Regions from separate parts of the Homo sapiens genome. Here regions 1 and 2 are each linked to region 3. The links come from fine-mapping of genetic effects on gene expression. A gene starts in region 3. Each other region holds a variant in brackets. All regions are shown on one strand. Distances are between the middles of the regions.

Region 1 (4,217 bases), 140 kb before region 3:
AAACAGTGTATCCCAGATGTTAGTTCGCATGTATTTGTGATTTCTGGTAAATATCCTAATGCTCTTTTGTCTTTGTTTTGCTTAAAGGATTGTTCAAGTTTAGAAGAATACAACATTGCCGCAGCATTACTCCCTTTGACCAGTGCTTTCTATAGGGTAAGTTTCATTGGTCCATATATAAGCTTGTTATGATTTACATAAATGTATTCAGTTTGATTTATTATGGAACTACATGAAAATCCTGTCCTCTTAGTAGCATGCCTAAGATATATCTGCGGTTATATTTATTATAACATTTATTGCATGCTATGTGTAGGAAATTTAATATAGAACACTAAATCATCTCCTAAAATACCACCCACACCCGTTACATCCTTTTCCTTAATTTTCTTTATAGTACTTCATAACACCTGAATTTATGTTGCATATTGGTTTGTTTACATGTTTTTTCCCCATCACAGAAAGTAAATTTCATGAGGCTGGAATATTGTCTGTCCTCTTTACTGCTATGTCCCAGGGCCACTCAGTAAATATTTATTGAATGAATGACATTGAAGCCAGAAATTAGAGTTTAACTTTACTGGTAATTTCTGCGAACCTTCTGAGAACTTTCTGGAATGTTCACAGTGATTTTTTAAAATTCTGTCACTTACTACAGTTATATCTATGCTTTTTCATAAATAGATTCATTCTTATGGCAGAAAAAACCAGCAAATTTCTTTTCCCGTGAAGGACTTGTAAAGAATTAGATAACCACCCACACTCAGAACAATGCATTTAATACATCCTTCTGAAATATGCAATCATAAACAGTAAATCTGTGGTAGCAGCTGACTTACTATTCAGCTACATGCACAGTCAGCTTCAGGAAGCAATAAGTTAACAAGTTTGGTAACTGCCATACTGTTTCTCTGTGTTAGCAGATTAATCATACATAGGTTTTAGTGGTGGGCTTAGATTTGATTTTTTGTGGTTGGCATGGTTTGTTGTTGGATGAGTTTGTTTTGGGTTATTTTGGTTTAGGGATGAATCAGTCAAGGTCTAGTCAGGAGCCAGAAACCACACCAGTAATTTGAACAGAGAAATTTTGTTTTATTTTTATTTATTTATTTATTGAGACAGAGTTTTAGCTCTTGTTGCCCAGGCTAGAGTGCAATGGCTCAATCTCGGCTCATTGCAACCTCCTCCTCCCATGTTCAAGTGATTCTCCTGCCTCAGTTGCCCAAGTGGCTGGGGTTATAGGCATGTACCACCACACTTGGCTGAGTTTTTGTATTTTTAGTAGAAATGGGGTTTCACCATGTTGGTCAGGCTGGTCTCAAACTCCTGACCTCAGGTGATCCACCTGCCTCGGCCTCCCAAAGTGCTGGGATTACAGGCATGAGCTACTGCGCCTGGCCTATTTTTATTTTTTTGAGGCAGTGTTTCACTCTGTTGCCCAGGCTGTAGTGCAGTGGCACAATCTTAGCTCCCTACAGCCTCTGCCTCCTGGGCTCAAGTGATCCTCCCATCTCAGCCTCCCAAGTAGCTGGAACTACAGGCACACACCACCACACCCAGCTAATTTTTTTTTTCTTTTTTTGTGACAGGGTCTCGCTCTGTCGCCCAGGCTAGAGTGTAGTGGCGCGATTTCAGCTCGCTGCAACCTCCACCTCCCAGGTTCAAGTGATTCTCCTGCCTCAGCCTCCCGAGTAGGTGGGACTACAGGCACGTGCCACCACACCCAGCTAATTTTTGTGTTTTTAGTAGAGACAGGGTTTCACCGTGTTGGCCAGAATGGTCTTGATCTCCTGACCTTGTGATCCGCCTGCCTTGGCCTCCCAAAGTGCTGGGATTACAGGTGTGAACCACCATGTCCAGCAGATTTTTTGTATTTTTTTGTAGAGACAGAGTTTCACCATGTTGCCCAGGCTGGTCTAAAATTCCTAGACTCAAGCTGTCTGCCCACCTTGGCCTCCCAAAGTGCTGCAATTACAGGGGTGAGCCACCACGCCTGGCTGATTTTTGTATTTTTTTGTAGAGACAGAGTTTCATCATGTTGCCCAGGCTGGTCTCAAATTCCTAGACTCAAGCTGTCTGCCCACTTTGGCCTCACAAAGTGCTGCGATTACAGTGGTGAGCCACCACGCCTGACCAGAAATTTTAATATAAGGAGTTATTAAGTAGTAATAGGGGATTAACTACTAAGAGGTAAAGAGAATTCGTAAGAATGCAGGAATAAAATATAGGGAGCAACTACTACCTCTAGGGCTCAGGCATACTACCTAACAAAGAAGCAAACTTGGAAGAGAGCCCCTTCCCAGATCTAGGCTGATTCAGATCATGTTGGAGAGGTGTTGTGGCC[A/G]CTGGATGGCATCGAATTTCAAGAGACCAGAACTGGCAAGCAGTAAACTGCCTGCTGGAGTGCTGGCAAGACTTGCTAGGAAGCCCCCCACTAGGATGGCCGTGAAACTTCTAGGGTGCTAGTGAAACTTGATAGGAAGCTACCACCTGGGGTACCACTGAAACTTTATAGATAGCACTGCCACTGTGGTCCCACACACCACCATTAGGTGCTTACCACAGGAGCAAGAAGGAGAAAGTACACCAGAACTAGGAAGAGAATACACTTTCTACTGCAGTGTTCCTTCAGCACCTTTACTGGCAAAGCTTAATATTCTGCATTTTGGCAAAGGAGAAATGTTTATAAGGGCCAGTTCCAGTATCACAAAGCAAGACAGAGAAGGATAGATTTGGAAGAAAGAAGTACTGCATTGATAACAGAGGGGTTAGGTAAGGTAGATCACACGGATTCTCGGATATTTTCTAAATCTTTACCCTTTGGAAAATTATTTCTAGTGCATATTAGATTTGTTAATTCAGGAAGTAGATGTAAATTACATATTCCTGGGCACAAATTGCAAATTAGCCATCCTCATACTGTCCAGCCAGTATAAATTCCTGGGTCTTGCCAGCATTGCTTCAGAGAATGGACTCAGCTGCTTGTCTTGTTTAAACTTACTTTTAAAATACTTTAAATAACATTATTAATTTTTTTCAGTGGAACAAAAGTTTATTGAGTATCTCAATATAAAAAGCTACTATAACAGGCAACATCTGGGCAGCAACATTAATAAAACATTGACATGGTCCCTAGGAACTTATATTAATAGTCTAATACTGCAGATAATTTTTAAAAATCAAACTGGTCCACAATGCCACCAACCAGATGGACATTATCTTAAGTAAAAGTTATGTATATACCGGGTACGGTGGCTCATGCCTGTAATCCCAAAACTTTGGGAGGCCGAGGCGGGCGGATCACCTGAGGTTGGGAGTTGAAGACCAGCCTGACCAACATGGAGAATCCCCATCTCTACTAAAAATACGAAATTAGCCGGGCGTGGTGGCGTATGCCTGTAATCCCAGCTACTTGAGAGGCTGTGGCAGGAGAATTGCTTGAACCTTGGAGGCGGAGGTTGCCATGAACCGAGAGCGCACCATTGTACTCCAGCCTGGGCAACAAGAGCAAAACTCCGTCTAAAAAAAAAAAATTATATATATATATATATTTTCCAGATAGTACAGAAAGGAACAAAATGCAAAGTAAAAGTTCCCTTTTCCACCTTCACCCCATTTCCTCTGAACCATTGGTTTCCTTCCTGGGGAAAAGGAGTGGGAATGAGGGTCAGGGGCCAGGGAAGAGTCACGCATTACTGCCAGCACATGCAGATAAAAATTTTCTTTTTTTTGGTGGTGGATCACTTGAGGCCAGGAGTTCGAGACCAGCCTGGCCAACATGGTGAAACCCCATCTCTACTAAAAATACAAAAATCAGCCAGCCATGGTGGAGTGTGCCTATAGTCCCAGCTACTCAGGAGGCTGGGGAAGGAGAATCACTTGAACTCAGGAGGCAGAGGCTGCAGTGAGCCGAGATCACGCCACTGCACTCCAGCCTGGGTGACAGAGCAAGACTATGTCTCAAAATAAAAATAAAAATAATTTTTTTTAAAAGTATCGTTTTTAACAAAAACAAACCATTTACTCTATTTTCACACCTTGATTCTTTCACTTAGTGGTACATCTTGGTCATCCTCTCATAATAGCACATATACCTAATTATTTTTAATTAATCCATTTATATTTGTAATGAAAAGATGGTATATATGTACCTACTATTCTCATATGAGCAGGATATTTCATTAGCCCAGATGAAAGGTTATGTTTATCTTTTAGAG
Region 2 (4,217 bases), 410 kb after region 3:
GTAAAGCTACCAATGATTCTTCAAATGGAGCCCCAGATGCAGTCCATGACTAAGATCTACCGTGGACCCCTGGACCGGCGTGCTAGCCCATGCTCCAATGTTAATGACATTGAAGGCACCCCTCCCAAGGAAATCTCAACTTCACAACCCCTACTACGCCCCAGTTCAGCAGGAAGCAGTTACAGCGGTTGTCGGCCAACCTCCCCAACAGCACTTGGGTTTTCCTGTTGAGAGGGGGATCTAAAAGACAGGACTAGCTGGATTACCTAGGCTGACTAAGAATACTTAAGCCTAGCTGGGAAAGTGACCACATCCACCTTTAAACACAGGGCTTGCAACTTAGCTCACACCCGACCAATCAGGTAGTAAAGAGAGTTCACTAAAATGCTAATTAGGCAAAAAACGGGAGGTAAAGAAATACCCAATCATCTATTGCCTGAGAGCACAGCGGGAGGGACAATGATCGGGATATAAACCCAGGCATTGGAGCTGGCAACAGCTAACCTCTTTGGGTTCCCTCCCTTTGCATGGGAGCTCTGTTTTCACTCTATTAAATCTTGCACCTGAAAAAAAAAAAAAAAAAAGGAGGTGTGTGTTCTCTCACTGGAACGCATAACCTAATAAAAATTAAATTTAAAAACCTCAGCTGGAATGCATTAAGAAACAAAGAGAACTGGGAAAGAATAAATGCAGTTGAGTTGGGATGTTAAATTACATTTTCCTATTTTCTTAGTTTTGGAGCTTAGAACAATAGGTGGCAAGTACCCCTATATAAAGAGATATGTCAGATCATTTATGCAGGACTTGCTCAAGGGGTAGCCTCCAAATTGGTTCTGAAACCTGTAGCCCATTACCCACTTTTGGCCTGAGAAAAGAAAATCAAGGAGAGGAAGTTTGAAAAGTGAAGATTTCTTTGAAGAGAACTGTCAAGAGTGCTGTGGTTTTCTTGCTCTCAAGTCAAGGGCAAGCAAGGAGTGAGTGGGAAAGATTAGCATCTCATGGTGACATGTGCTGAGTGGAAGAAACGCTCTGTGGCTACTGGCAACTAGAGCAGAATGTGGTGAGAAGATTTCTTGGGACAGTGTGACATGAGTGCCTTGAGTTGTGAGGTAGAGAGACTCATCTGTTATCTCACCTGAGAGCTAGGTGAGAGGCTTATTGGAAGACAGAAAAGACAATAGGGTAAAGGGCTAGGGAAGCGGGGGTTGCAGTGAGTTTGAAAGGTAGTAGTAAGAAAGACTAAAATCATTCCTTCCTTTGGACAAAAGATAAGAAGCCTGAATTCTTTTTTTAGCTCTATTACAAATGAGTTGTGCTAGTATGGAAAAACTACTAGAACCCTCTAGGTTTGTTTTCTCTTCTATAAAAGGAAGAATTGAGGCTGGACACAGTGGCTCATGCCTGTAATTTCAGCACTTTGGGAGGCCAGGGGAGGATTACTTGAGGCCAGGAGTTAGAGACCAGCCTGGGCAACATAGTGAGAATCCATCTCTACAAAAAAAAAAAAATTATTTTAATTAGCCAGATATGGTAGTATGTCCCTGTAGTCTCAGCTACTCAGGAGGCTGAAGTGGGAGGATCACTTGTGCCCAGGAGTTGGAAGTTATGGTGAGCTTTTTTTTGTTGTTGTTCCCATCCATGCTGGAGTGTAGTGGCACGATCTCAGCTCACTGCAACCTCTGCCTCCCGGGTTCAAGCGATTCTCGTGCCTCAGGCTCATGCCACCACACCCAGCTAATCTTTATATTTTTAGAAGAGACTGGGTTTTGCCATGTTGGCCAGGCTGGTCTCGAACACCTGACCTCAGGCGATCCGCCTGACTGGGCCTCCCAAAGTGCTGGGATTACAAGCATGAGCCACCATGCCCAGTGACAATGAGCTTTGAGTGTGCCACTGTACTCCAGCCTGGACATCAGAGCAAGACCCTGTCTCTCAAAAAAAAAAAAAAAAAAAA[C/AC]AGGGCCGGGCACGGTGGCTCACTCTTGTAATTCCAGCAATTTGGGAGGCCGAGGTGGGCGGATCACCTGAGGTCGGGAGTTCGAGACCAGCCTGACCAACATAGAGAAACATCGTCTCTACTAAAAATACAAAATTAGCAGGACGTGGTGGCACATGCCTGTAATCCCAGCTACTCGGGAGGCTGAGGCAAGAGACTTGCTTGAACCTGGGAGGCGGAGGTTGCGGTGAGCTGAGATCGTGCTATTGCACTCCAGCCTGGGCAATAAGAGCGAAACTCTGTCTCAAAAAAAAAAAAAAAGAGATGGCCAGGTGCAGTGGCTCATGCCTGTAATCCCAGCACTTTGGGAGGCCGAGAGGGGAGATCATGAGGTCAGGAGATTGAGACCATCCTGGCCAACATGGTGAAACCCCATCTCTACTAAAATACAAAAAATTAGCTGAGTGTGGCGGCACCTGCCTGTAGTCCCAGCTACTCGGGAGGCTGAAGCAGGGGAATCGCTTGAACCCGGAGGCAGAGGTTGCAGTGAGCCAAGATCACGCCACTGCACTCCAGCCTGGTGACAGAGCAAGACTCCTTCTTAAAAAAAATAGAAAGGAAAAATTGGACTAGACTGTCTTTAAGGTAGGGACCTTTTATGACTCTCTAGTTCTACAGGTGTATTCTGATGAGCTCCATGGTGACTCATGGACTGGGATGAATTATTATGGTATACAGATGGTCTCTGACTTATGATGGTTCAACTTAGGATTTTTGACTTCAGGAGGTACCCATACAATCATTCTGTTTTCACTTTCAGAACAGTGTTCAATCAAGTACATGAGATACTTAAGACTTCATTATAAAGTAGGCTTTGTGTTAGATGACTTTGCCCAACTATAGGCTAATGTAAGTGTTCTGAGCACATTTAAGGTAGACTAGGCTAAGCTCCGAAGTTTGGTTTAGGTTAGGTGTACTAAATGCACTTTTTTTTTTTTTTTTTGAGACAGAGGAGTCTCACTCTGTTGCCCAGGCTGGAGTGCAGCGGCACGATCTCGGTTCACTGCAAGCTCCGCCTCTCAGGTTCATACCATTCTCCTGCCTCAGCCTCCTGAGTAGCTGGGAGTACAGGCACCCGCCACCACTCCTGGCTTATTTTTTTGTATTTTTAGTAGAGTCGGGGTGTCACCGTGTTAGCCAGGATGGTCTCGATCTCCTGACCTCGTGATCCGCCTGCCTTGGCCTCCCAAAGTGCTGGGATTACAGGCGCGAGCCACCATGCCCAGCCTAAATGCACTTTTTTTCTTTTTTTGAGACGGAGTTTTGCTTTTGTCGCCCAGGCTGGAGTGCAGTGGCACAGTCTTGGCTCACTGCAACCTCTACCTCCCGGGTTCAAGCAATTCTCCTGCCTCAGCCTCCTGAGTAGCTGGGATTACTCGTGCCTGCCACCATGCCTGGCTAATTTTTCTATTTTTTTTTTTTTTTTTTTTTAGTAAAGACAGGGTTTCACCATGTTGGCCAGGCTGGTCTTGAACTCCTGACCTTAGGTGATCCACCTGCCTCGGCCTAAATGCACTTTTGACTTACTAGATTTTCAATTTACAATGGGTTTATCAGTACATAACCCCATCATAAGTTGCGGAGCATCTATAAATACATTCCATAATATTAGGCCCTAGAAATTCAGGTCTCAAGGGGACAGTATTCTCCCCTCCCTAACCGCTCTTCTCTTAACATTATTTAAAAGATGAATTAATTTTAAAATTTCCAAAAATAGAGTTATCCATAATACCACTACCTGACACATTACTAATTATATTTCAGTGGGTGCTTTTCTAGACCTTGACCATCTCTCCTTGTAGTTGCTGCAGTTGCAATCAGTAGCACACACTTTTTGTGGTCTTACAGCACACTAGTTCAGTAAACTGTGCATAACCAATGGGAGTGAAGTTTAAGGTGCTTCCAATCATTGCACAATAAATGCAGGCAAGGAATAACTTGGCCTTTAATAAAACAGTCTTTAGGGGCACAGAACTACTCTGCTGTGGCCTCTCTTACTCCTTAAGCCCCTTCCTCCTCCCCACCCTTACTTCCTGATCCCTTCAGCAACAGCAGCAACTTAAGAGGCCCAGTAAATCTAAGCCGCAGCAGCCTCTGACCTACATGACACTCACTCTGAGGCGGCTTCTGGTTTAGAAATGCCAGGTAATCCATTTAGCAGACATTGCAGCACACAGAGAAAATAGATATCAAAGGGATGTGGATATGCGCTGCTGATTCTGCT
Region 3 (4,217 bases):
GGACCTGTATTTTAGAAAAATAACTCTGACAGCTATAAGCAAGATAGATAGGTCTTACTGTCTAAAGGCGGGAAGACCAGTTGGGGTAATATTAAAATATTCCAGATGATGAATTAGGGCAGAGACACAGGGGCTTCAGAAAAGAAGATTCAAGGGAGAGACAGGAAAGCAGCTCTGGGAACAAGCCCAAGCCAGAAGGGCAGGCCTAGATGGAAAACTGTCTAATAGGGGGCCTCAGTTTTGCAATCACCAGCTCAGCCCAAGCACTGTATTTGCCCCAGATCTCAAGTGGAACCAGGCCTCCTGCACATTCTGCACATTTGGGGCAGAGTTCCCAAGAAGCCCAATCCAGAACCAGTCCTCTCTGGGCCCTTCAGCAGAGCACTCTGTCCTGCATCTCAGGTCTCTGAGTAAGTGGTATTTCCAGAGTACACATGCCCCCACCAACTCATCTCACAGCTCAGCCTTGGCTACAGAAAGCCAGGGCCTCTTCTTTGTTAATTTTCTTCAACTCCTCAGAGGTTGGGCCTCCGGCCCAGTGAAGTCAGGGTCTGGGAGGCAGCCCTGGCTCCCTGCCCGCCCACAGAGGATATATTTGGAGCAAGACAACTCCTTCTGGACACAGAGCTTGGGACCCACCCCGCAGGGCTGCCCCAACCAATTTTACTGAGTATCCACGCAGTGTGGTTGTCACTCACGTTTTCACTTGTTAGTTCATTCATTTGTTTACTCATTCATTCATTCCACAAACATTTATTGATCTGCTGGTATGATGCAGCAGGTACAACAGGATGTGTGGTGGGCACATATCTGTATATGTGTGTATATGGGTATCTCTAAGCAAGGATGGCAGAACACACTCTGGGTGCCCTCCCTCAGGGTTCAGTGGTGATGATGACTCACACTCAGGTGTATATGGCATCTGTGGGGACCTGTGTGCAAGTACATGCAGGCACGTGCTCTCTGAGGAGGTAGCTATGACTCAGTGGCACGCGGCATCTGTGGGTATCTGTGTGGATATGTGTCTGAGTGCAGGCATGAGCATAGGCGCTTGCTCCCCAGGGGGTGGGGGAAGTGGTTGTGACTCAGCTGCACATGGTGACTGGGAGCCTACAGGCCAGCTGTGACTTTATGGCTTTGCTTATTTGCCAAGCCAAACAGTTAGTGTTGGGCGTAAATATTCTATCAGAGTGTGCATGGAATAAGTCCTGAGCTAGGGACCTCCAGCAGGCAGGAGAGACTCAGTAGTCTTGGCCCAGCAGCATCTGTCCCCCGCCTGCCCCCTCCACCGTAGGTATACAGGTCCTACCCTCCCTCCCTCGCCCTCTCCACTCCTGCCTCCTGGAGACTCAGCGAGCTCGTCCCTCATTGACTCTACATCACCCCTCACCCACCGGTCCCAGGTGCACACACGAGACCAGGCCCAGAGGTACAGGGCTGTGGCCTTCGAGCTGCCAGCCCAATCCATTTTTCTACCATACCAAAAACCCCTTCTTTTTCAGCCCTCATGACCGCGTCTTCCTCCAACATCCCAGCCCCGGTCGTAGGCTCGGCAAGCCCGCTCCAGGGCCCACTTCCCATCTCGGCGGCCGCAGACCCGCTGCCTCCCCATCGGCGCGGCCCCATCTTCACCTCTGAGCTCCTTGCCCCTCTCTCCCTGGCTGTCTCTGTCCTTATCTGTCCCAAGTCTATCTTTGTCTCTTCTCGAGCCGGGCTGTCTGCAGCAGAGGCTTCACCAGAGTGGAGGTGCTGACAGAGTGCGGGGTGTGGGGAGGACAATCTGTGTCCCTTCTTGAGCCTTATCGGGAAAACTTAAGTCACTGCTCAGGGCTCAGACTGGAATTTCGCCCTAGATGACCTTGCTGGGTCTGCTGGGGCCTCCGCAGGGACAGCCAGGGTCAAACGAGTCAGGAAACAGGCCCCTGCTTGTGGGCCGCCTGCCCGCCCTCATCCCAACCAGGCCGCCTGCAGCGCCCTCGGCGGGAGACGCCGGGGAGGGGAGAGAAGGGAGGAGACGGGAGGGGCGGCCCCGTCTTGGGCACTCGCAGGGACTGGCGGGAGGCCGTGTGGGGCTGGAATCGTGACCACGGATGCCGCAAGGCCACAGGGCCCTCCTCGGGGTCCCGGCCGGAAATCCTCAGGGGCCCGAGGAGGAGCCGGGGCGGCCACCCGACCACCTCCCCGCGGGCCGCAGGCAGGCGGCGCGCCGTACCCGCCGAGAACGCGGGAAGAGGCCATCGCGTCTGGACACCTGGGCTTCGTCCCAGAGCCGTCACTGCTGTGTCCCCTTGGGCAACTGCCTAGCTCCCTGAGCCTCACTTTTCACACCTGGAACATAGGAAAATTGCGCCCACCTTCTGGGTCGTGGCAGATAAAATGAGTTCACGTCAGGGCTGGCTCTCAGGAGGCGCTCAGTGCTCGTGGCTTTCCTCCCCGGTGGACAGAACCCCGGGGCAGCTCCCCGCGCCCTGACGCCCAGAGCGGAGCGGCCCGGAGCGGAGCGACCACCGCACACTGGACCCGACCCTAGTCGGCCCCGCGCGCCCGGGTCGGGGCTGGAACCTGCGGGCGTGGCGCACGCCTGCCACCTGGCGGCGAAGCCCCCAGGCCGCCCGTCCCGCCCACGGCTGCGCGCGTGCGCAGGCCTGCACCACCCAGTCGCCCCCACCACGCCGCGCCCCGCCTCCCTCGCCCAGGGACTTCCTAGGCCACGCCACGCCGCTCCACCAGCTCAGGGAACCCCCTTGGCCGTGCAGACCTGCGCCACAGGGTCGTTTCCTCCCCTCCTTCCCTCGAAAGCGTATGCATTTCGTTGCCCCTGGAACTGGGGTCATTTCAGGACCTCCCAAGGAGGGTCAGGATGGTGGTATTGGCCTTAGGGGACGCGGGCTCAGGTTGGCGGTTGAACCGCATGTTCCTGTTTCAAACAAACCTAAATGTAGGCCTGGAAGGCTGTGCACTGAAATCCTAGTATTAGGTTGGTGCAAAATTAATTGCGATTTTTGCCATTGTAGGTTGTCTGCAGAGTGAGATTATGGCGAAGCATTTTATTCTTTTTACAAACCTGCTTTTTCTCAGTTTTCCACATTGGGTATGTATTGGTGATAAGGAAAAAAAAACTACAAAAGATATTTTTTGAAAAAAAAAAATCACATGGAGAGAGAGAAAAGGGGACGAATTGGCCTATCAAGGGGGTTTCCGGAAGTTAACTTTCTAGTATCTCTGTTTGCATGTAGACTCCCAGGGTGCCCTGGGAGAAATGGAGAAATGAAGCCCAGGACATGAGGCATTGGGATGGATGGTCCATCTTTCACATGTGCTGGGATTAACTTCCTTTAAGAAAAAAGGAAGGCAAAAGGGTTCCCAGCCTTAGGGTTGGGTGGGGTAGAGGCTCCAAATAAACCAGAAACTCTTGAGTAGAGGTGGTCAGTCATTGCTGTCTGGTTCAAGCGCTGATTGGACCCAAGGGGACCAGATCCAGGATATATTTGAGAACAAGGAATTTATTTCAGAAAGGGGCCACTCAACAGTCAGCATTTACTAAGAACCTGCTTGGTACAGGGTGCTGGAACTACCACAACGAGGCTGCCCCTTCCCTTAAGGAGTTCTGGGCTGACTTTTGGGAAAGTTCATCAGCGGTGACGGGTAGTGAGTGAGGCAGATCAGCAGGAACATTACAAGCCGCAGGAACCGTCAGCTGCTGATAGAGGCCCTGGGAGGTAGAGTGGAGAACAGCTCTGGCCACCACAGCTAATGGCCACCAAGGGAGCGACAGGACCCTTGAGGGGAGAGCAGAGGCTGGAGGTCCTTGGGGTCTACTGGGAGGTGGCAGTCACAGGCCCTTGGGTCCTCTCCACAGCCTTGCTGGAACCTTCCAAAGAGCAGGTGTGACTGGGGAAGTGTGTTGCTGGGCTGTCACCCTCACCTGGGACCTCCTCTGTGCACTCATCCATTCACAGATTTGCCAGCTACCTGCCTTTGCAGGACACCTCAGAAGTTACAGACTTGCCTGTGGAAATGCAGAGAGCACCTGAGGTATTTCCCGGACTCTCCAGTAGTAGCCTTGAATGGCTGACCAACCGCAGTCACCTGCCAGATCTTCTCAGAACCGGCCAGCCCACCAGCGACAGGCCCATTAAGTGGCCTGGCCCAGCCCAGATGGAAAACCCCCTCCACGTGACTTTCTAAAGAACATGCATGAAGACAAAACACCAGGT

Which allele goes with the higher level. Positions count from the first base shown, and alleles are read on the strand shown. Sizes are in standard deviations (SD) of each study's normalised expression. Not every link is listed here.
For the expression in subcutaneous fat of the gene that starts at base 2,565 in region 3, C is the high allele of the variant in region 2 and AC is the other (large effect, 2.1 SD a copy in TwinsUK).

Evidence for each region. PIP is the estimated chance that this variant, and not a neighbour inherited with it, causes the effect. A credible set is the group of variants that fine-mapping cannot tell apart.
Region 1: its variant is the best candidate, but not a certain one, in a credible set for the expression of SBF2-AS1 in whole blood (INTERVAL, PIP 0.58).
Region 2: its variant is the best candidate, but not a certain one, in a credible set for the expression of SBF2-AS1 in subcutaneous fat (TwinsUK, PIP 0.89).

What each region holds. Positions count from the first base shown.
Region 1 is chr11:9,891,882-9,896,098 of GRCh38, reverse strand. SBF2 (SET binding factor 2) reads left to right here. Exons shown (of 40, transcript NM_030962.4): 17 at 88-156. All of the region lies in intron 1 of LOC101928008 (a long non-coding RNA gene), which reads right to left. Among named protein-coding and RNA genes, the nearest start is that of LINC02709, 130 kb to the right of the region's middle. RefSeq lists enhancers at 1,455-1,955, 1,956-2,456. The variant A/G (reference allele first, on the strand shown) is at 2,345.
Region 2 is chr11:9,344,155-9,348,371 of GRCh38, reverse strand. No RefSeq gene overlaps it. Among named protein-coding and RNA genes, the nearest start is that of TMEM41B, 32 kb to the right of the region's middle. The variant C/AC (reference allele first, on the strand shown) is at 1,955.
Region 3 is chr11:9,756,641-9,760,857 of GRCh38, reverse strand. It overlaps SBF2-AS1 (SBF2 antisense RNA 1), which reads right to left and starts at 2,565. Exons shown (of 3, transcript NR_036485.1): 1 at 2,355-2,565. It overlaps LINC02709 (long intergenic non-protein coding RNA 2709), which reads left to right and starts at 1,325. Exons shown (of 3, transcript NR_033972.1): 1 at 1,325-1,429; 2 at 3,015-3,091; 3 at 3,960-4,217. RefSeq lists silencers at 2,116-2,235, 2,356-2,755.